4 separate regions of the Homo sapiens genome follow, and all the other regions are linked to region 4. The links come from fine-mapping of genetic effects on gene expression. A gene starts in region 4. Each other region holds a variant in brackets. All regions are shown on one strand. Distances are from middle to middle.

Evidence for each region. PIP is the estimated chance that this variant, and not a neighbour inherited with it, causes the effect.
Region 1: its variant is fine-mapped to the expression of RPS6KA3 in whole blood (TOPMed, PIP above 0.99).
Region 2: its variant is fine-mapped to the expression of RPS6KA3 in whole blood (TOPMed, PIP 0.98).
Region 3: its variant is fine-mapped to the expression of RPS6KA3 in whole blood (TOPMed, PIP above 0.99).

What each region holds. Positions count from the first base shown.
Region 1 is chrX:20,392,402-20,397,544 of GRCh38, reverse strand. No RefSeq gene overlaps it. Among named protein-coding and RNA genes, the nearest start is that of RPS6KA3, 130 kb to the right of the region's middle. The variant G/C (reference allele first, on the strand shown) is at 2,350.
Region 2 is chrX:20,315,290-20,320,437 of GRCh38, reverse strand. No RefSeq gene overlaps it. Among named protein-coding and RNA genes, the nearest start is that of RPS6KA3, 51 kb to the right of the region's middle. The variant G/C (reference allele first, on the strand shown) is at 2,488.
Region 3 is chrX:20,410,281-20,415,412 of GRCh38, reverse strand. No RefSeq gene overlaps it. Among named protein-coding and RNA genes, the nearest start is that of RPS6KA3, 150 kb to the right of the region's middle. The variant G/A (reference allele first, on the strand shown) is at 2,274.
Region 4 is chrX:20,264,198-20,269,348 of GRCh38, reverse strand. It overlaps RPS6KA3 (ribosomal protein S6 kinase A3), which reads left to right and starts at 2,440. Exons shown (of 22, transcript NM_004586.3): 1 at 2,440-2,785. The coding sequence starts at 2,717. RefSeq lists silencers at 1,664-1,958, 2,380-2,599, 2,720-2,979 and an enhancer at 4,160-4,209.

The DNA of each region.
Region 1 (5,143 bases), 130 kb before region 4:
TGCACTTTCATATGCCATTTACTAAAACCCAGAGAGGAGGGGGAACTACATTTCCAGCCTTAAAAGCTTAGCATTTCTGCCATGATTTCTTAGAAAATGCATGCTGGATTCTACCAGAAGGGACAAAGCATCTGGAGCAGATACTATTAGTTGCCTACCCTAAAATCCATCCTGCCCTTCTCTGTAATAAAACTTCCAACTCTTAGGGTAGCACATGGCCACCCAAAATTAAGGTTTAGTCAATGAGATATAAGCAGAGGTTGTACGGCAGCATCCAGAAAACCTCTTTAAAAGATTAGATGGATGATTTCCCCTTCTCCACTTTTAAAAAAAATTCTGGAATGTAGATGCATTCATTGGAACTCTAGCCATCACTTTGGACCGTGAGAAATAGGGCTGGTGGAATAATGAGCTAAAAAGAACATGAGTCCTCAATGACTTCGTGAAGCCACCATATCAGCCTTGTGATCTATGTTTTATTTACACAGAGAGAAAAATAATCTTCCATATTTTATGTTTTTGTTATTTTGATTTCTAACACATCCAGCTGAACCTAGTCATTCTAATAATATCTTTTAGCATCTTGCTTGGAATCAAAATCAAATTTTGCAGTGATTCCACTTTCTTTACATTTTTGAAAATGGCAATGACATTTACCTGTCTCCAGATTTCTGGGACATCCCTGCTTTCCATAATTCTTCAAAGATGTTTATTGATTTTTCAGCAATCTCTTTTACAATATTCATGTCAGGCTCGGCTTTCAATTAATTCAGATTAATTGTTTACCAACATCCAATCTAATTAACTAGTTCGCTCCCCTGATGCAATCTTTTCACTCATCCTACTTTACTCTCGCCTCTTACCATTGTTTTATTCTCCATGTCAATTATTACATAGACAATAGGGTGAATTAAAGATGGCTAGAAATTATTTGTCACTCTCCCCTCAAAAGGTGGAGTTTATTTCCCCTCCCCTTGAATCAGGGATGGCTCCGTGGCTGCTTACCAACAGAAGGCAGCAGAAATAGTACTGAGCCAATTCTTTGCCTACCCTGTAAGAGGACTGGGCAGCTTCCACTTTTGTTTCCTCTCTCTTCAAATAGTCACACTTAAGACACTCCCTTTTGGAAGCCATCTGCCATGTTAGTGAGCCATTGTGATGCCCAGCCCGGTCAAGCCCCTAGTTGATTACAGCCCAGTCAATATCACATGAAGCAGAAGAATTACTCAGCTGAGTCCAGTCAACCCTGAAAATCATGAGAAATAATAAATGGTTATTATTTTGAAGCTACTAAATTTGGGGGTAGTTTGTTACACAGAAATAGATAATTTCTGTGCAGTAATAATTTTATAAATGATATAGTAGTTGGCAATTGAAGCGGAACTTTTTTAATGACAAAATTCCCAGAAATGCTAGTTATTTCAGGGAGGAAAAAACTTTATTGAGGATGTGATATTTCATTATTTCATGCATTCATTCACTCACATTTATTATCTCTGCCAGGTGTCTGTTAAGTGCTGAATTACCACAAGGCACATTTCTTGATCTTAAGGAGCTCACAGAGTAGTAGAATTTGAACTAAATGGGAACAATTCAAATCATTTTACATATTTCTGGACTATTTTTTTGGAAGAGTCATATAGACTGAAAATTCCCCACACTGAATTTGACCAAAGAACACCTATTTCTGTCCATGTATTTCTGTGGAACAATTCTTGAAGGCCATTTCAGATAGAATCCACTGTAGTCAAGCCCTGAAATTCTGTGCCGCTGAGGGTTCAAAAGAGGTTAAAAACTGGCTTACAAGAAATGCTATTGCCCTTAACCCAGAGCAATAGTGCTAGCTTCTGAGGGTGTGGTCAAAGCAGACGTCTTAACATTTCTGAGGGATTCAGCTTTTTTTCTTCCAATAATGATCAGTTTATATAATAAGGGCACAAGCCTCCCCACCTCCCATCCTACACCTTCCCACCTCAGAATAGGCAGTCTGAAACTGTCTCAGTGAGGAATTTAGGCTACAGCTGGAGAGACTCAGTAAATCTTCACAGTTCTATAGAAACAGGGAGACAGGAAGGGAAAGAAACATTGCAGAAACTTCCAGGAGAATTATGTGAAGAAGTCCTGCCAGGACAATACAGCTGGGCAACATCTTGCCTTTCTTTTTTTCTATGGAAACTCTGCTCAAAACACACACACACACACACACACACACACACACACACACACACACATCATACACACAACAAAAACACACACTCACTAAGCAGAATTTGCCAGTTTTGCTAGCCAGGGTTAGTTTTGCAATCAGTGATAAACCTCAGCAGGACAAGCTTCTTCGCGGCTATATTG[G/C]AGTAACTCAGGGCAACCAAAACAGATGGCCAAAATACTCTTCAGAAAGCAAACACGGTTTCTGTTGCCAGGCCAAGTGGAACCCCCAGGAAGTAAGGTTTCAGAGAGGGAAATTTTGGAGGTTCTTCTTCAAGAATGGAAAATGCGAATTTCACTTATTGTTCGACTACACTTCTTAGGAAACTTCCATGTCAGAAGAGGGATACTAAGATGTAAAGAACCCAGTCCTTGCCTTCTATACGAGAAAAGGTTATTCTCTTTCTGTGCCTCCTTGGCCCTTACATAGTAACTTCTCCTAACACTTCCTCAGAAGCGGTAGAAGGGGTAGACAGAAGCTTTCACCCCACACTCCCCTCCTCCATGAGACATTTCATGAATACAGACAGAAGTCTGACATCCATTCATCTTTCCTCAGGTGGCAAAAATGTCAGTGAGCAGAAATGCCCCCCCTCTTCATCTGACTTTCTTGATCCAGCCGGCCTATGGAAGGAGCTCCTAGGCCTTGCATTCTTTTCCCCATTATGAGCACATCAGGGCGGGACTTCCTTGCCTTGCAAAAGAGACCTTCCGTTTTCTACTTTTCCCTCCCTTGACTTGGGCAATTAAAGCCCAAAATAGGAGACAGATTGATGTGGGCCTTAGTTCTGATGGGAGTCCCTCTTTCTTGCTTCTTTTATCGCCATGAGAAGAACAGACCATGATTAAGCCAATAATTCAAGAAGGATGAGAGACATATGAAGAAACCCTCAACTCACCCTACAGTTGGAGCTACCCAGCTGAGTCTAGCTGAAATCAGTAAAGCTGCCCCCACCAACCTGCAGACATGTGGAAACTTAAAGCTTATTATCATTTGCCACTGAGATTTTTGTGGTTGGTTGCAACAATAGCTAGTTGATACAGAAACTGGTGATTACAGGTAATTAAAAGGCTGAACTCTGGATTCCAATTGCCTGGGTTCAATGGCAAACTCTCCAAACCAAAAGCTGATAAACTCAAACAAGTTACTCTCACTCTGTGTGCTCTGTTTGTATATCAATAAACTGGGATAAGACTGTTTTCTTTCCTCAGAGGATTGTTGTGAAAACTAGATTTCTCAATACACTCAAAGTATGTGAAGCAATACCTGGCACACAGTAAACATTCAATAAATGTTTTCCGGCATTATTTTATCTAACAAAGCTGATGCTGTATTTTTGCACATGAATACAAATTTTTGAATCAACTTCCAAACTTCCAAACTTCCACCACTCTGCAGGGATTTTTATTGGGATTGCATTAAATCTATAGATCAGAGGGAATTGGCATCTTAATATTGAGTCTTCCAATCCATAAATGTGCTATATCACTCCATTTATTTAGGTCTTTAGCTTTTCTCAGCAATGTTTTCTAATGTTCAGCATTAAAATCTTGCACATATTTTGTTACATTTATACCTAAATATTTCACGTTTTTGACAATATTGTAAATGATATTGTTTATTTCAATTTCCAATTTTTTATTGTTAGGACCTAATTAAACTAAAGAGCTTCTGCATGGCAAGGGAAACTATCAACAGAATAAACAGACAACCTACAGAATGGGAGAAAATTTTTGCAAATTATGCATCTGACAAAAGTCTAATATCCAGCATCTATAAGGAACTTAAACAAATTTACAAGAAAAAAGCACACAACCTCGTTAAAAAGCAGGCAAAGGACATAAACAGACACTTCTCAAAAGAAGACATACATGCAGCCGACAAACATGAAAAAAAAGCTCAACGTCACTGATCGTTAGAAAAATGCAAATCAGGCTGGGCACGGTGGCTCACGCCTGTAATCCCAGCACTTTGGGAGGCCGAGGCGGGCAGATCACGAAGTCAGGAGATCGAGACCACTGTGAAACCACGTCTCTACTAAAAAAATATATATATATACAAAAAATTAGCCGGACGCAGTGGTGGGCGCCTGTAGTCCCAGCTACTCTGGAGGCTGAGGCAGGAGAATGGCGTGAACCCGGGAGGCAGAGCTTGCAGTGAGCTGAGATCGCGCCACTGCACTCCAGCCAGGGTGACAGAGCGAGACTTCGTCTCAAAAAAAAAAAAAAAAAAGAAAAGAAAAATGCAAATCAAAATCACAATGAAATACCATCTCACACCAGTCAGAAAGACTATTATTAAAAAGTCAAAAGATAACAGATGCTGGTGAGGCTGCAGAGAAAAGGGATCACTTATACACTGCTGGTGGGAGTGTAAATTAGCTCAACCATTCTGGAAAGCAGTGTGGCAATTCCTCAAAGGGCTAAAAACAGAACTACCATTTGACCCAGCAACCCCATTACCAGGTGTATACCCAAAATAATATAAATTGTTCTACATAAAGACACATGCACACATATGTTCACTGTGGCACTATTCACAATAGCAAAGACATGGAATCAACCTAAATGCCCATCAATAATAGACTGGATAAAGAAAATATGGTACCTATACACCATGGAATACTATACAGTCATTAAAAAAGAATGAGATCATGTCTTCTGCGGGAACATGGATGGAGCTGGAGGCCATCATCCTTAGCAAACTAACACAGGAACAGAAAACCGAATACCACACGTTCTCACTTGTAAGTGGGAGCTAAATTGTGAGAACACATGGACACATAGAGGAGAAGAATGCACACTGGGGCCTACTTGGCGAAGAAGGGTAGAGGGTAAGAGGAGGGAGAGGAGCAGAAAAAATAATGAATGGCTACTAGGCTTAGTACCTGGTTGATGAAATATTCTGTGCAACAAACCCCCATGACACAAGTTTACC
Region 2 (5,148 bases), 51 kb before region 4:
AAAGATGCCATAAAGGACATTATTGGGTCAATTGACAAAATTGGAATGAGAACAAAAGATTAAATAAATGTGTTGTATCAATATTAATCAAATGGAAGTTGATAACTCTATTGTGATTAGGTAACAGATTATTCTTAGGAAATACTCACTGAAGTATTAAAGACCCATAATGTATGTAACTTACTCTCAAATGCATCAGAAAAGCATTGTGTGTGTTTGTGTGTGTGTGTGTGTGTGTGTGTGTGTGTGTGTGTGTGTGTAGAGAAGATATACAGGCAGATCTAAAGTAAATGAGGTAAAATGTGTACAGTAAGTGAATCTAGGTAAAACATATGTAGATGATATTTGTACCATTTTTATTCTTGCAACTTCTCTGTAAGTTTAAAATTATTTCTGAATGAAAGTGTTTTTTTTAATCATGTCTGGGCCAAGTGTGGTGGCTTATACCCACTGAAAGTAATCCCACTGCTTTGAGAGGCTGAGGCAGGAGTATCACTTGAGTCCAGGAGTTCGAGACCATCCTGGGCAACACAGAGAGACCACATCACTACTAAAAATTTTTTTAATTAGCCAGGTGTAACAGTGAGCACCTGAATTCCCAGCTACTTGGGAGACTGAGGTGGGAGGATTGCTTGAGCCCGGGAGTTCGAGGTTGCAGTGAGCTATGATCACACCACAGCACCCCAGACTGGGTGACAGAGTGAGACCCTGTCTCAGGAAAAAAAAAAAAAAAAAAAAAAAAAAAAAAGGATGTCTGCACAAGACTTTGCATTTGTGATATTTAACAAGTTCAATTGTTATATCCATATTCATCCATCTATCTTCAGTAATCATGTCTCCAGCACTATGCTAAAATGCTGTAGAGATTGAAGAGAGAAATAGGCATAATTTTTTCTTTAAGTAGTTCATTTCTACTTTAGAAGAGAGGACACAAACACATAAATAGACAGAAATCATGATAAGCAGCAAATGCTGAAGACCAAATGAGTAGTAGCGGCAAAGGGAAGACGAAATGGAATTTCAGGGCTTTAGGGAGGAGGTGGAAGTTGAGTGAGGCCTTTGAGCAGGGACTGGGTTTGGAAAGGAGCAGAAGAGCAGAAAGAGCACTCCAAGTGGAGAGCACAGTGAGACCCAAGCTGGCAAGGTAGGAAAGCACACCCTGTTGCGAGCAGTATGATTTAAGAGGTTTCACTGGCAGTGGGGTGGGGAGGATCAGGGTAGGAATGTTAGTTGGGGCCAACTGCGGACACATGGAAATACCAGGTTAAGGAGTCTGGAGTTGATTGCAGAGGCCAGAGGTCAGCAACAGCTTAGAAGTGCTGACCCCTCTTTCTTCTGCTTCTAGACAACACAGTTCAAGCTGGGAGTGGGCTGTGTCAATGATGGTGGAAGGACACCAAGAAGGATCCAATATTTGGAAACATCTCCTTCATAGATCCTACCAATCAGGAATCCATTTGAAAACACAACTATCTTTCAGAAGCAAATCTGGTAGTTATTGTTTACAATTAAGTACACTTTAATCAGTTAAACCCATGACTGTGTCAGTCACACTGAGGGAATGGAAACGTTTAAAGGAGGATAAAGAGCAGTAATTTTGGAGAACTGGGTGAAGGAAGGCTGACAGGGCAGGTGTATTAATGAGGGTAATTAATGGTAGCTGCTGTAACAAAAAAAAGTCTCAGCAATTTAACATAGTAAAGGTTTATTTCTCATTCATTAATGTCAAAATCTGGTACAGGTGGGGCAGCTCTCCTTAGTAGGTGTCTTCCAATTAGTGACTCAGAAATCAGCTGCTATCTTGTGAGGCTGCCATCTTAAACCCATGGCCTCTGAAATCACCATAGGAAAGAAAGATTGAGAGGGATTATCACACCAGGAGTTTTGTGGCCAGGCCTGAAGGTGACATCGATCACTCTGCCCATGACTTCAGTCACATAGGCTCAACCGACAGCAATACGTACTACCACTGGAATATGTAGTTGTTCCGTGTGCCCAGGAAGAAGAAATAAGACGGTAAGTATCATAGTTTTGGGTTCCCCCAAAAGCCAGCTCTGAGACAGGGATATGGGTACTAATAGCTTAGGTGAGAGGTGACCTCAGGAAATGCAAAGAGAATAGGGAAGTAAGTCAAAAAAAAGAAGGAAGCCAATACAGTGTGTTCATGAGCCTACTCTGGGCGCCACAGGCTCAATCCTACTGGAGACTTCTGGGATAAAACTTCTGTATAAAACAAGCCCCAAGTTGTTCCACCTGAGACGTGAAAAAGCTGATTGATTTCTCCAACAACTCATGTCCTTCGCTGGTTGTGGGCTAATCCCTGGGAAATCAACTCTGGCATTTCTGGCAGCAGGTCAAGCATGCTCCAGTGGCCAGGGAAAGTCCTCGGGCAGAGACATCACATGTGCTTCCTTGTGAAGCAAGCAGTATATACTGAATAGTGAGTGCTGAATGCATGTAAAAGGGACACTAAGAGCATCTGCTACA[G/C]TGAGCACCCACCGGTAGCAGATAACCCTGATCAAAGTGTTCCTTGGGGGGCAGAGAACAGCCTGAGGTCATGGCTCTGGGGTGAGTCCTGGAAATGCATTTTCAACAAGCTTGCCAACATGGGCTCAAGCAGTCCATTTATAGATGAGCACTTGGAAATACTTCCCATTCTCAAACTTTTGTCATTTCACTTCTCTCAAAACCACTTTAGTGGACCTGTTCTCTGTAAGGTCACTACTGCCCTCCACTTCAAATTCCATTGTCTCCTCAAGTCCTCAACTTAGTCATTTGACTAATGTTATTATTTCCTTCTTCTTGAAACACTTTTCTTCCTTCTGGGATCCTCTGCTCTCCTAGTACTTCTCCTACCTTCCTGGGTGCTCTCTGCACTCCTAATAACCAAGCAGCTCACTTTTCCCTGGAGGCCCGCCATTGTTCCTGGTCACTACACCTAGACTTTGAGAAGAAACCAGAAATGGTAAGTGGATCTATTGGTAATAGCTGCCTGAAGTCATGCATTGAGAAGGATTCTGAGGCTGTGTGGTAATTTAGCTACGTCTGCCATGGGTGTTGGCATAGGGTGGGCAGATTTCAGACATCAGCTCTGCTGTAGATCTTTCTCAAGTTTTCATCTTCTTTGATCTCCCTGGACAATCTCATCCACTCCTGAGGCACTAGCTATCATTTCTATATAGACACCACCTAAATATATATTTCTATTCATGACCTCTCTCAGGAGTTCCAAACCCATATTTCTAACTTTTCAGGGAACATATTAACCTCGATTTTTATTTTCTAATTACATTCTCTCTCATCTGCATTCTCCATGTCACATGATGGATTTACCATCTTTCAAAACACCCCAGCTTAAAACCTTGGCAATGCCTTCACTCCCTTAATATTTTCTCATCACCTTTCCCTATAGTTTAACATAATGCTCAACGAATTGTATTGGAATTACTTGTTTACTCTCTGCCCTAAAACACTGTGGATTCTCTAAATAAAAGAACCGGATCTAATCCATCTTGCATCTTCAGCTGCCAGAACTGTTTCAGGCACAAAGTAGACACTGAGCAAGTGCCTAAGGATATATTTACATGTATATGATGTATATGTGTGTGTGTATATTACATATATATAAGTACATATGTAAATCATGTGTGTGTGTGTGTTTTGTTTCTTCTCTTTAGCTCTTCCACCCCTTCCACCCTATATAGCTAATCAGTCACCAAGCTCCATCTAGTCAATTGCTTCAGAAAGACATCCACATACGCCAGCTTCTTTTCCATCCTCATTGCTTGTCACAGGTTGTGTGCCCTGGAAAACAGACTCTGAGATAGAGATTTAAATACAGGAATTTGATTAGGAATGCTCTCAGGAACAGCACCTATGGGGCAGTAAGGGCAGCAGGAGTAGGCAGAGGGAGGAGTTGGGCTACAACACAGTCATAATAAAAGTATCAGTTGACCCTAAGGGGAGCTCTGGAGCCAGGATGGACCTTTGCTGATTTTCCAAATTGGGAACAGTGCCTGGGCCTTTGTAACACCCCCTCGCACCATTGACGAATTATTAGATGTGGGCTGCTCCAGAGAAAGTCTGTGATTTGGAGCTAGTAAGGTCTCTTCAGCTGAGAGCAAGTCCCAGAAAGAAATTCCACTGAAAGCCATCAGTCACCAACATTTCCTGCCACTGGGGTAATGAGTGTCTCATTCCTGGAGTGGGGATCTTAGAGGCTCACCACAGCATCCACTACCCTGCTGGCATCCTAGTTCAGGCCCACGTAACCTCCCCTACTGCAGGCATTGCTAAACAGTCTCACTGCCTCCAACCTCTTTTTTTCCAATCCGTCCTTGGCCCTGACACCCAGACTAATTTTTCACAAATGGATCTGATATATTCCTGATATCAGAGTCAACACAGCTTATTAAGCAGTATGTGACAATTCAACTTGCATGTGGGAAGGGGGAGAGAAACGTGTGTGTGTGTTTATAAATATACACATAGGAAAGTATTTCTGGAAAAACCCATGGGACATAAAGTAGATTCGTGGTTGCCAGGGGAGGGAGAATGAGGAGTGACTGCTAATGGGTATGAGGTTTCTTTTTGAGGTGATGTAAATATTCTGGAATTAATGGCGATGGTTCCATAACCTTGTGAATATACTAAAACCCACGGAATTGTATACTCTGAAATGGTTAATTTGATGGCATTTGAGTTATATCTCAATTTTTTTAAAAAAAAAAAGTATCTCAGAGTTGACATATGAAAGTGATAGTGGTGAATATCAGGTTTTTATCCTTTATGTACCCTGGCTTTTCAGACTTTTATAACGTATTTTTTAATATTAATTTAGGAAGGAAAAAAATTCACCCTTCAAAATCACTTTTCTGCTTTAAAACCTCATCCCTATGCATGGAGTGAAGGCCACACTACTTGCAAAGTTGTCCAGGCCTTTTCTGAGCAGGCCCCAACCTGCTTTGACAGACACTCATCTTTCACTCTCCTGTGACTCTCCTCCCCTGAGACTCTCCTCCCCTGACTTCAGCTACTTCAGATTTCTTCATTTCCTGAACATGCCCTGGGCTTCCTTGCCTCTGAGGCTTTCTTCCCTGCCACTCACAGCCACCCCTTTCTTTGTCTCCACTCTGATCCAGCCCTACC
Region 3 (5,132 bases), 150 kb before region 4:
GAAAATGCCTCTAGCTAAAAGATTCTATTCCTCGGCCTCTCTTGCAACTTGGTATGGCCACGTGACTAAGTTCCAACCTGTGAGCTATAAACAAAAGTGTTGTGTGGGAATTCCAGGAAGGCTGCTTGAGGGAAGCTGAGTCACTGGGAAGAGGCCTGTGCTATGCAGCCCCTATGATGCCACCTCCTGGGATTTAGGCCCTCGTACAACCCCCTCCGCTTGAGTGTGGGCTAAATTTCTAATGGGAGAAGCCAGCTGCCATGTCATAAGGCAGCCCTCTGGAGGGGCCTACATAAGTAAGCTTGAAAGGGGACCTTGTGAGGCCTGCCAACAACTGCAGAAGTGAGCTCAGAAGTGGATCCTCCCCAGTTGAGCTAGAGATGACTGCAGCCCCTGCCGACACCTTGATTGCAGCCTGTAAGAGCATGAGCCACGACCACACAGCTAAGCCGCTCCCGATGATGAGCCACAGACACTGTGAGATAGTGTTTATCATATCCAGCCCTCAAGTGTTGAGGTAATTTATTACACAGCAATACACCACTAATCCAGAACCCCTTGACCCTCCTCAGCTGTTTCATTCTGCTGCTGGCCTTGTACCTGGGTACAGGAGTGAGAGCTGCACAAGCCTCTCTCCACCATAAGGACAGAATCCACAGGATGAGCATGGCAGAGTCAAATGGAGGCATCTAGGTCCTGTGGATGCCTGAAAGCCAACACAGGGCTGCGCACTTCCTGACTCTCTTTACATGAGGGAGAAATAGACTCCTCTTTTATTGAAGCTTGAAAAAAAAAAAAAAACATGTATGCCTGGCTCTCTTCCTTTCATCAAGTCTCTAAAATAGCAATATAATTTTTAATAGACACTTAGCTCTTGCTATGTGCCAGACTGTATCTAAATGCTTTACAGATATTAACCCATGAAATTGTCATCACAACCCTATTGTGAGTTCCACTTTGCAGATGAGTAACCTGGAGCTCAGAGAGGTTAAGTGACTTGCTGAAGGTCACCCAGCTAGGAAGTGGCAGAGCCAGGATTATCAACCCAGGCACTCTGGCTGCAAAGTCTGTGCTTTCAGCCATGAAGCCCTGTTGTGTTAACATTTACTAAGCACTTCCTGAGTGCCAAACATCATGCTAATTGCTTCACACTTTTTACAGATGAGGAATCTGAAGCTCAGAGAGGGTTAAGTACCTTTCTCAAAACCACAGTCTAGAAGTGGCAAGTTGAAATTCAAATCTACATTTCTTTGCTTCCAGGGCCAGCACTCTTACTACTTGGGAAATGACGCTTCTATTCTGGGCTTCATTTGTCTTCAAGCATTCCCAGTGACTGCGTCATTTAGCCCAGCGCTCCCCAAACTTGGCTGTGCTTACAGATCATCCGGGGTTCTTGGTATATAGAGATTTTGACTCTATTTATCAAGTAGGTATGAGCCTTGGCCTGAGAATCCGCATTTCTCGCACACCACCCACTGCCTCTCTTACCAGGTGACTGTAATGCTACTGGTTCAGGGACCACAATTTTCATATCAGGGATCCACTTCCCCCTAAACTTCAAGCCATATGGGAACATCACCTCTCTTATGGTAGTGGTCCTCCTAAATTCAGGCCAGTCGGCTCATTCCCTCCTGTCTCATGTGGCCTTCCTGTCTCTTCTGACTGCAGGGGCTGTGTTTCTCCTGGAAGGATGGAGGAGACTGACATTCTCCTTAGCAAGGCTTGACCTTAAGTGGCTATAAAACAAGAGGGAACTGGAGGAGGTGGTCAATCAAGTTCTTTCCAGCTCTAAAAGTTCTTGATTTTGTGCACAATATGATTTTCTGCCACTTCCCACACCTTTGTACTTCTCTGATGAAGCAACAAAGTAATCTGAATTACCACATAATTAAATGCATCTAATTTGACACAGGGGAAATCAGTGTGTCCGACAGAGAAGCGAAGAGACTTGCCAGGTTACAGAGCTAAAGGGCTGGCGAGCTGTAACCAGATGCTGGTGTTTCTCAGGCTTGACGACACCTCTGGGGGTCCAGTTAAAATACAGAGGCAGATCCAGGAGGTCTGGGGTGGCACCAGAGAGTCTGCATTTCTAAGCAGTTCTCAGGTAAAGCCGATGCTGCTGGCCCAGGGACCTCGCTTTGAGGGGCACAGGTCCAGGGTGCTTTTCTTATACTACTGCTCTCCTCTCCAACTGGGCAACCGCAGCATCAGTAATGTAGCCCCCATGCACAGAAGAGGCAGGAAGAACAAAATGAGACAGGAAGGAATGAGTC[G/A]AGTGGCCCGAATTTAGAAGGACCACTACCGCAAGAGAGGTGAGGTTCCCGTACGGCCTGAAGTTCAGGGGGAAGTGGTTAGAGTCCCTGCGAGGGCTGAGAACACAACAAAAGCAAAGAAGTACATACACACAGACGCAACTTCCGGCTCTTGGGCAGAGCTTTTCTGGCATTTCTCTGACACAAGTGCCAGTCCCCCCCCACCAACCCCCAACCTCGCCGAGCTGATCTTGGCCCTGTAGGCACAAATCTGAGTGGCATCGGGAGTACAGGGGCCCAGCCTCAGGGGAAGCCCACAGGAGACAGCACTATTTACATGGAACCAACCCAAATCCCCATCAATGATAGACTGGGTAAGGAAAATGTGGCACATATACACCATGGAATACTATGCAGCCACAAAAAGGAATGAGATCATGTCCTTTGCAGGGACATGGATGAAGCTGGAGGCCATCATCCTCAGCAAACTAACACAAGAACAGAGAATCAAATACCACATGTTCTCACTCATAAGTGGGAGTTAAACATTGAGGACACATGAACACAGTGAGGGGAACAATACACACCAGGGCCTGTTGGGGGTTGGGGTAAGGGGAGGGAGCTTAGAGAATGGGTCAATAGATGCAGCAAACCACCATGACACATGTATACCTATGTAACAAACCTGCACGTTCTGCACGTGTATCCCTTTTCTTTTTTTAGAAGAAAAAAAAAAAGAAATATGGTCTTCCCCCGATGGCTCACGCCTGTAATCCCAGCACTTTGGGAGGCAGGTAGATCACTTGATGCCAGGAGTTCGAGACCAGCCTGGCCAACACGGCAAAACCCTGTCTCTACTAAAAATACAAAAATTGGCCCAGTGTGGTGGCAGGCACCTGTAATCCCAGCTACTCGGGAGGCTGAGGCAGGAGAATCGCTTGAGCCAGGAGGTGGAGGTTGCAGTGAGCCAAGATCACATCACTGCACTCCAGCCTGGGCAACAGAGTGAGAGTCCGTCTCAAAAGGAAAAAAAAAAATACCACACACACACAGAAAAAATATGGTCTCTACCCTCGAGGAATTTGTCATCTATGTAGGGGAGCCAATGTGAAGCAAGCTGGGAGTTTAAGAGAGCTCCTAACTTGGCAGTAAGGTACTGGACGTGCAGTGGGAAGTCTCAGATAAAGAAATGGATATGGGTCTGAGAAAGTCAGAAAAGGCTTCATGGAAGAGGTGATACCTGAGTCGGGGTCTTAGGTAGATGCGGTCAAGTACTAAAGTGGCCCCAATTCCTCCCTGTTCTCTGTATCTTCACTCTTTGCCATGAAACTTTGCAGTGCCCCATCCCCGGCCACTTTAATTCTGGACTCAGCCATGTAGCTTGCTTTGGACATTAGGAAGCTAAAATTCTTCACAAAGCAGGGATCTGAAAAATTGCTTACATAGTTTCACTAGCCTTTTTATGCCTCAGTCACCACCAGGAAAATATGCCCAGGTGTATGCCCAGGCAAGCAGGGCGCAGCCAATTCATCCCAGTTGTCCCAGCTATAATAGCCAGCCAGACCCCAGACATAGGATCAAGCTCAGCCAAGGTCAGCAGAGCCACCTAACCAACCTCCCCAGGGGTGCAAGCACTGAGTTCTTATCGTTGTATGCCACGGAGGTTCTGTGGCTGTTTTTATGCAGCATTATTATGAAAACACGCAACTGATACAATAGGCAATGAGATTGGAAGAAACGAACACTCAAACATTTCCTGCAGTGACTCCTTTAGAAAACTGGCTTTGTGTGGTATTAATTGCTACTTAAAACAAAGTTCCCCTGGTTAAATGCACTTGAGAACCACAGTAAATGAAGATAACAGATTTCTTGATGAAGGACTTCCCAGGGCCTCGACTGTGAAATTGTGCACCGTGAAACTCCAGGAGGCAGCATTCAGAATGCAACACGTCCCAAACATTTTTTGAAGTGTTTAGGGATATAGGAGCTGTTAGTCTCAGCAAATCATGTGTCATTTCACAACTAGCAGATAAGTTTCCCCAGGACAGGAATATTGTCCTTCTTGTCTAGTGTTGTCTCTGGAGACCTAGGGCGATGCTTGCCACATGATCACCCGCTAAATATGTGTGCAAGGAAGGCAGAGAGGGAAGGGAGAAGGGAGGTAGCACAGATGTGGTGTTTCTTGCCTCTGCTCTTCCATTTGTACCATTGCTTCTGTGAACCATAAATGTATTGGCTTTGTCTACCTGGTGAGCCCCAATTATCCTTCAAAACTCAGCTTACAAGTCATCATTTCTCTGAAAACTTCTCTGACCTCCTCAAGCAAAGTTGGGTAATTCATTCACCATTATAGATACTGTAAGTACTGTTGCTTCTGTCCACATCCCCTGCAGTGCTGGGGGCTGCATTGTCGATTTCATCTTTCCTACCATGCTAAGTGTAAAGTCCACCATACTGTAGGTGCTTAATGAGTATGCACTAGAAAGAGGCCAGTAGAGAGGGAGGGAGGGAAAAAGGAAAGAGATGGACGGGGAGGAAAGAGAGAATGAGGGAGGGAGGGAGGAAGGAAGAGGGAGAGAGGGAGGCAGAAATTAATAAAGCATACTCAGAGATCATTTTCATAATAGCAAATGGTTGGTAATGATAGGATTGGAGAGGTTTCCTGGGGACAGGTAGTGGAGAGACATGGATATAAGAAAATGAGTTTACCCTATATTCTGTAAGAAGCCACAAATTAAGCAAGGAGGTAGCATTAGATCAGCTTTCCTCTGCAAATTGTTTTCAGTCGACAGGTAAAATGCTACTATACTACGTATTCCAAGGTAACCCGAATACAATTTAAGCTATTTACTTAATAGAGGAGATCATATGTAGCAAAAA
Region 4 (5,151 bases):
ACCCATTATTAACAGTTCATGTAATGCTTAATTCACTGAAACGTGACCACCGCTCACATTACTTTTACAGATCAGGTAACTCTGTTTTAAAAGTTATTCCTCTGGTTCTCAAGGTTAACAGAGATGAATAAAAGTTGATACTGAAAATGGCATACAATTTGCTTTATTTTAAAATATTCATTCTTTGCGTGGGGGTAATTAGCACTGAACAGTGTTAGCCACATAACGGTCTCTCTTCAACTATGTATGTTTTTACTAATGCAAGAATGTTAACTGAAATAATTGATCAAAGGGTAGGGGGAGCTAATTTACTTTAAGCCAACCGAATTAACGAACTTCTTTTCGCTATAAGGAGTGGTCATGTGACTCTGCAATGTAAATGAATAAAGCATTTTGTACATAAATGCAAAATAGTACACAACTCCTTATCCTCCAAACTTCTGCAAGCACGTTTTACCGTCGGGAATTACACAGAGAAGGTGCTGCCAAATTAGCTGAGTTTGGGCCCAGGTTGGATTTGCAACACCTGAATATAGCATGTGAAGGGAAGTGACAAAGGCAAGAGCCAAGTGGCCCCATTCGCCTTCTTCCCCAGACCACGTTGAGTCTGCCCAGATGTTGTCCAACCTGAGCGGTCCCCCTGAGTCCAAAGCTTCGGGAGAAGGCGCGCAACGAGGACTTCCTGCCGCCTTCTCAGGCTCCCTAAACAGTTGGAGCCTCCCTAAATGGCCACGAGGTTCCCCGGCCTCGAGCCTGTGCCAAGGGGCGCGCTGGCGAAGGCAGCAGAAAGAGCCCAACACCTGCCTCTCGCAGGCCCAGCGAGAAACCTCGCACCGCCCGCGCAGACCTGGCCGGCTGGGTTTGGGGCTCTAATCTCATCCTCACACCTGCTTAGGGAGGCAGGCGAGGGTTCTCCAGGTGTCTGGGTCCCGGGAGGATGAAAGGAAGCTGTTAATAGGCGTGCGCTGGGAGCGCAGCAGCGGACGCGCCGTGGTCGCTGGGCGTGGGAAGACCGGGATGCCTGGGCCACGGCCTGAGGGTTTGAAGGGACAGGCCGGCTCGGAGATCTCCCTTTGCTTTTTCTCTTCCCCTCGCTGGGCGACTAGCCAGGGGCTGCAGTAGCTTTCCACTCAGCCCTGCGACTTTTACACATTTCTGCCCGGGCGCACTTAGCGCGCAGCGGCTCCTGGCGCAGTGAACACAGGGTCGAGTCCTCTTGGGACGCACCCCGGACGCCCAGGCCTTCCCCCCAAAGCTCTCGCCGTCCTGTGGGGCTCCGTCGCCGTCGGGGCATTGGGTTTCCTTAATCCAGGGCTTCCCCATCTTGGGCAGGAGGAGGAGTCAGAACCCCTCCCCTCCCTCTGTCCCCCTCCTCCTCCTCCTCCGCCCACGGCCAGCCTGATTTTTAAATCTAATCTCTTATTTAAAGTCAACAGAGGAGCAGGAACCCCGCGCTCCTGCCTACAAGATATTTTTAAATAATTCTCCAACCTCTACCGAGAGGGACAGCCTTAAGGAACCTCCCTGTTTTCCCCTCTTGAAGATTTAGGTAGCAGACGTGGGGCGGGGGGCAGCGGTTCCAGGGTCGCAGCTGAAGGCCGAGAGCTCTGCGCACTTGGGGAGGAGAATTTGGGCTGGGGGCGGTGCGGGGGAAGCGACTAATACAAGAGGAATTAATCCCAAATAGCCACAATTTAACAAAAGAGCGTCAACTTGAAAAGACTTGAATCAAACCGGGAGCCGAGCCCCCAGGAGGCTCCTAGGCACGAAGCCTCCCTTGCCTCCGTCGGGGGAGATGGGGGGCAGGTGATTTCCCAGCATGTGACCCTGAAGAGGGAGGGTCTTGGGCCATTACGGGATGCGCCCAGAGACTAGGCGCGTCCGCACGCACGCACCCCCGGAGGAGACAAGCCGAAAAGACACTCCGCACCCCTCCCCGGGTCCTTGGCTCGGGACTGCGCCCCCGGTACTTTGCCCACCTCCCTCCCCAGCTGGGCGGGGACCACTGTTCTCCCTCATTCCCAAGGAGCCTCCGACCTCCTTGGACCCTTGGCGGTGAAAGGCTCCCAGCCTTCGCCCCTCCTGCCTTTCCCATTTCTTTCCCCCGCCTCCCGCCGACGCCCCCAGATCTGTTGGGCTCGCCCTTCCTGAAAGTAGGCGAGGCCCAGAAGCTGAGGTTGGGGCGCAGAAGGAGGGGGGTGGGAAGAGGGAGGAGCGGAGCGCAGCGGCCGGGGGCGTGTCTTCCACTAGCCCAGCCCCTGGGTGCGCGCGGCGGTGGTGGCGGCGGCCGAGCCTCGCTTTGAGAGACAGGTATCGCTTAGGCGCCATGTTGTGAGCGGAAGTGGGGGAGCGCGCGGCGGTCGCTGTTCTGCTGGGAGCGGGCGCGGGAACCGGCGGGGGGGGCGGAGCCGTAGTCCCGGCGGCGGAAGGAGGAGAGGAAGAAAGGGGCGAGACCCGGTGCCCAGCGGAGGCGCGAGGCTCTCGCTCAGCGCGCGGGCGTCTCTGGCCAGGCGCGCGGCTTTCGGGCGGTCGGCGTCGGCGTCGAGCCCTCTCTGGGGCCGCCGCCGCTGCTGCTGCTGCTGCCGCTGCCGCTGCCGCTGCCGCCGCCGCCGCCGCCGCCGCCGCTGCCGTGGGGCTCGGGCGGCGACGGAGCGGGGCCGGCCGTGGGGCGGGCGGGGAGGGAGGAGGCGGTGAAGGCGGCGGGCCGGGGGGGAAGATGCCGCTGGCGCAGCTGGCGGACCCGTGGCAGAAGATGGCTGTGGAGAGCCCGTCCGACAGCGCTGAGGTGAGTGCAGCAGGGCGGCCGGGGCCGGCGCATCTCCTCCTCGCGCCCCCGCCGGCTCGCTTCGCTCCCCGGAGCTGGCCACTCGGCCCGTTCTGATCCCGCTCGCGTCTTTCCCCCGGGCTCAGGGTTTTGGTTTGGGTTGTTGGGGTGGGTCTATTGGCCGGTCTGTCTGTTCCTTCCATCCTCACCCTCACCTCCTTCCCTCGCTCGGGGGGCTGCCAGTGTGGTGGCGCGTGGGGTTTGGAGTGGGCGCTGGGGCTTTGCAAGAAGCCAATTTTAATCAACTTTGCGTGGGGGAAGCGGGAGGCGGAGCGGGGGCCGGCGGGGAGTTGGGAAGTTTGGCCCAGCCGGGTCGGGGGCTTTCCCGGACCTTGGCGACTTTGGGAGATGAGGGAGGGGTAGGGATCGGGTTCACCGGGGAGCAGGGACTCTCGAGTCCAGCCGAGGGAGGGGCTGCTGCGGGGAGACCGGCGCGCGGGGCACGGGCGGCGGCGACCTGTGGGGGTTTCGGGTAGGGGGTGCAGGGTTTTGCCTCCCCCTCGTCTGCCGCAGCGGTTTCTGCTGCTGCAAAGAAGAAAGCGGAAGCCTAAGGTCCCCTACCCCCTCCGTTTCTGAGGTCGCAGAGCTAGACCCCCGTCCCTGTGAGTTTAACTTGAGTTTCCTGTCCATGGAGGTGAGAGGGTGATATTCAAGGAGATCAGCGGCCGCCGTAAAAGGCTTTCTGGTTTTCCTCGCCCGGGATCTGGTGACCGTCCCTGAGTCACCCATCCTAGTGCCCAAAACCCAAACAATATACCCAAACAGGGCAAAACAGAATTTCCCCGGGCGCATCACTACACCGAGCTTTCCTGAACCGCCCCTATCCCAGAACAACTCGGGGTCTGCGAAAATAATCCAGACAAGACCCGTTCCAAGGTATCACCGCTCCTCTCCGGAGTGGAAAATCAATTCCTGATGGTGGCGCGTCTGTGATTCTTCCTTCTTGACTTTTTGCTGCCTTCTCTCCCCGCAGCGGACTTTAGGGGATTACAGGATGATAGGCTGCGTGTGTGTAATAGTTACTGAGTGAGTGACCCCATTTCTGGAAAGCATGACTGAAACGCGGGGGTGGAACGGGGCAGGCTCTGATGAGTGGTGTGCTTGGCGGCAGCCGCTGCCCTGCCGGCCTCCGCAGTGTGAGAAGTAGATAGGGTTACTGGTTACGTCAGTAAAACCGAGGCTCAGTTTAATCTTGAGATGCGGGACACTTGCATTCTCCGGTATAATGGAGAGGGCGGGGGATCAGTTCAAATCGCTTTTCACTTTTTCCCCCAGTCACCTCCGCTGCTGTATAACAATTTTGCTTGTTCTCCTTAACGCACGCAGAGTTGTAATAGTGCTTATGATTGGTGCTTAGTATTTTGCGACTTGGATCATACTTGTAAAACCTGAACTAAATGCTGCTCTTCAATGGAAAAGACATTGATATATGTTGAAAGAAAAGGAAAGAAAGAAAGGAAATCATGTTTTTAAGACTGGCAGAATCACAAGAACTTTATTTAAAATTGTTAACCAGACTAATACTATAAATATTTTATTAAAAAGCCAAATTTATGATGTTTAATAATCCTTTAGATGGGTAGTGTGAAAAACAGTATGCAAGAGCTCGTCATATTTTTCCCCAGAAAATTTTTTGCATTAAATAATATAGCTAAAAGGTTAATAAAATGTTCGCAAAGTACTGAACTTGTGGAAAGAAATTAAATTTGCTTTGAGCCTGACTTTTACATACAAACATTAACAATTGCAACTCAAGATCAGTCCACATTTCTGCTTGGCATGTATCAGTGTGATAGGAAAACAATATCGTTTAGAATTCCACCTTATCCTTTTTCTATCTGGAATGCATTTGGATAAGGAAGGACAAAACATATTTATTTAGCACCAACTGTATGCCAGGTACTGTGCTACATTACTATTTCATTTTATCCTTCCTGTGACCCAGCAGGGTAGGATTATGGTCCCCATTGTTATAGATTAGGAAACCAAATCTCAGAATTTAAAAGGTACAAAGATGATAAATAGTAAATGGCAGAGCCATAATTCAAAGCCAGGTGGATACAATTCATGTGCTTCGTTTTATATCAGGGTAGCTGTTCCAAATCTTTTGTGGAAAAATTCGGGGTATAAATAAGCCAGTAGTTAGAGGTCATCTATTTTCCAGAAACAAATAGAGTATTATAAGAGGTCTCATTTGGTAAAGCCTTGTTATTTCAGTTACTATCATGTTTTCCAGAACTTGACAGATAGGATTCCACAATTTGCTGTTTTCAAAGAATTTTCTTGCTATCCTGGCATAAAGTATGTCAAACAGAGCCAGTGTTGCC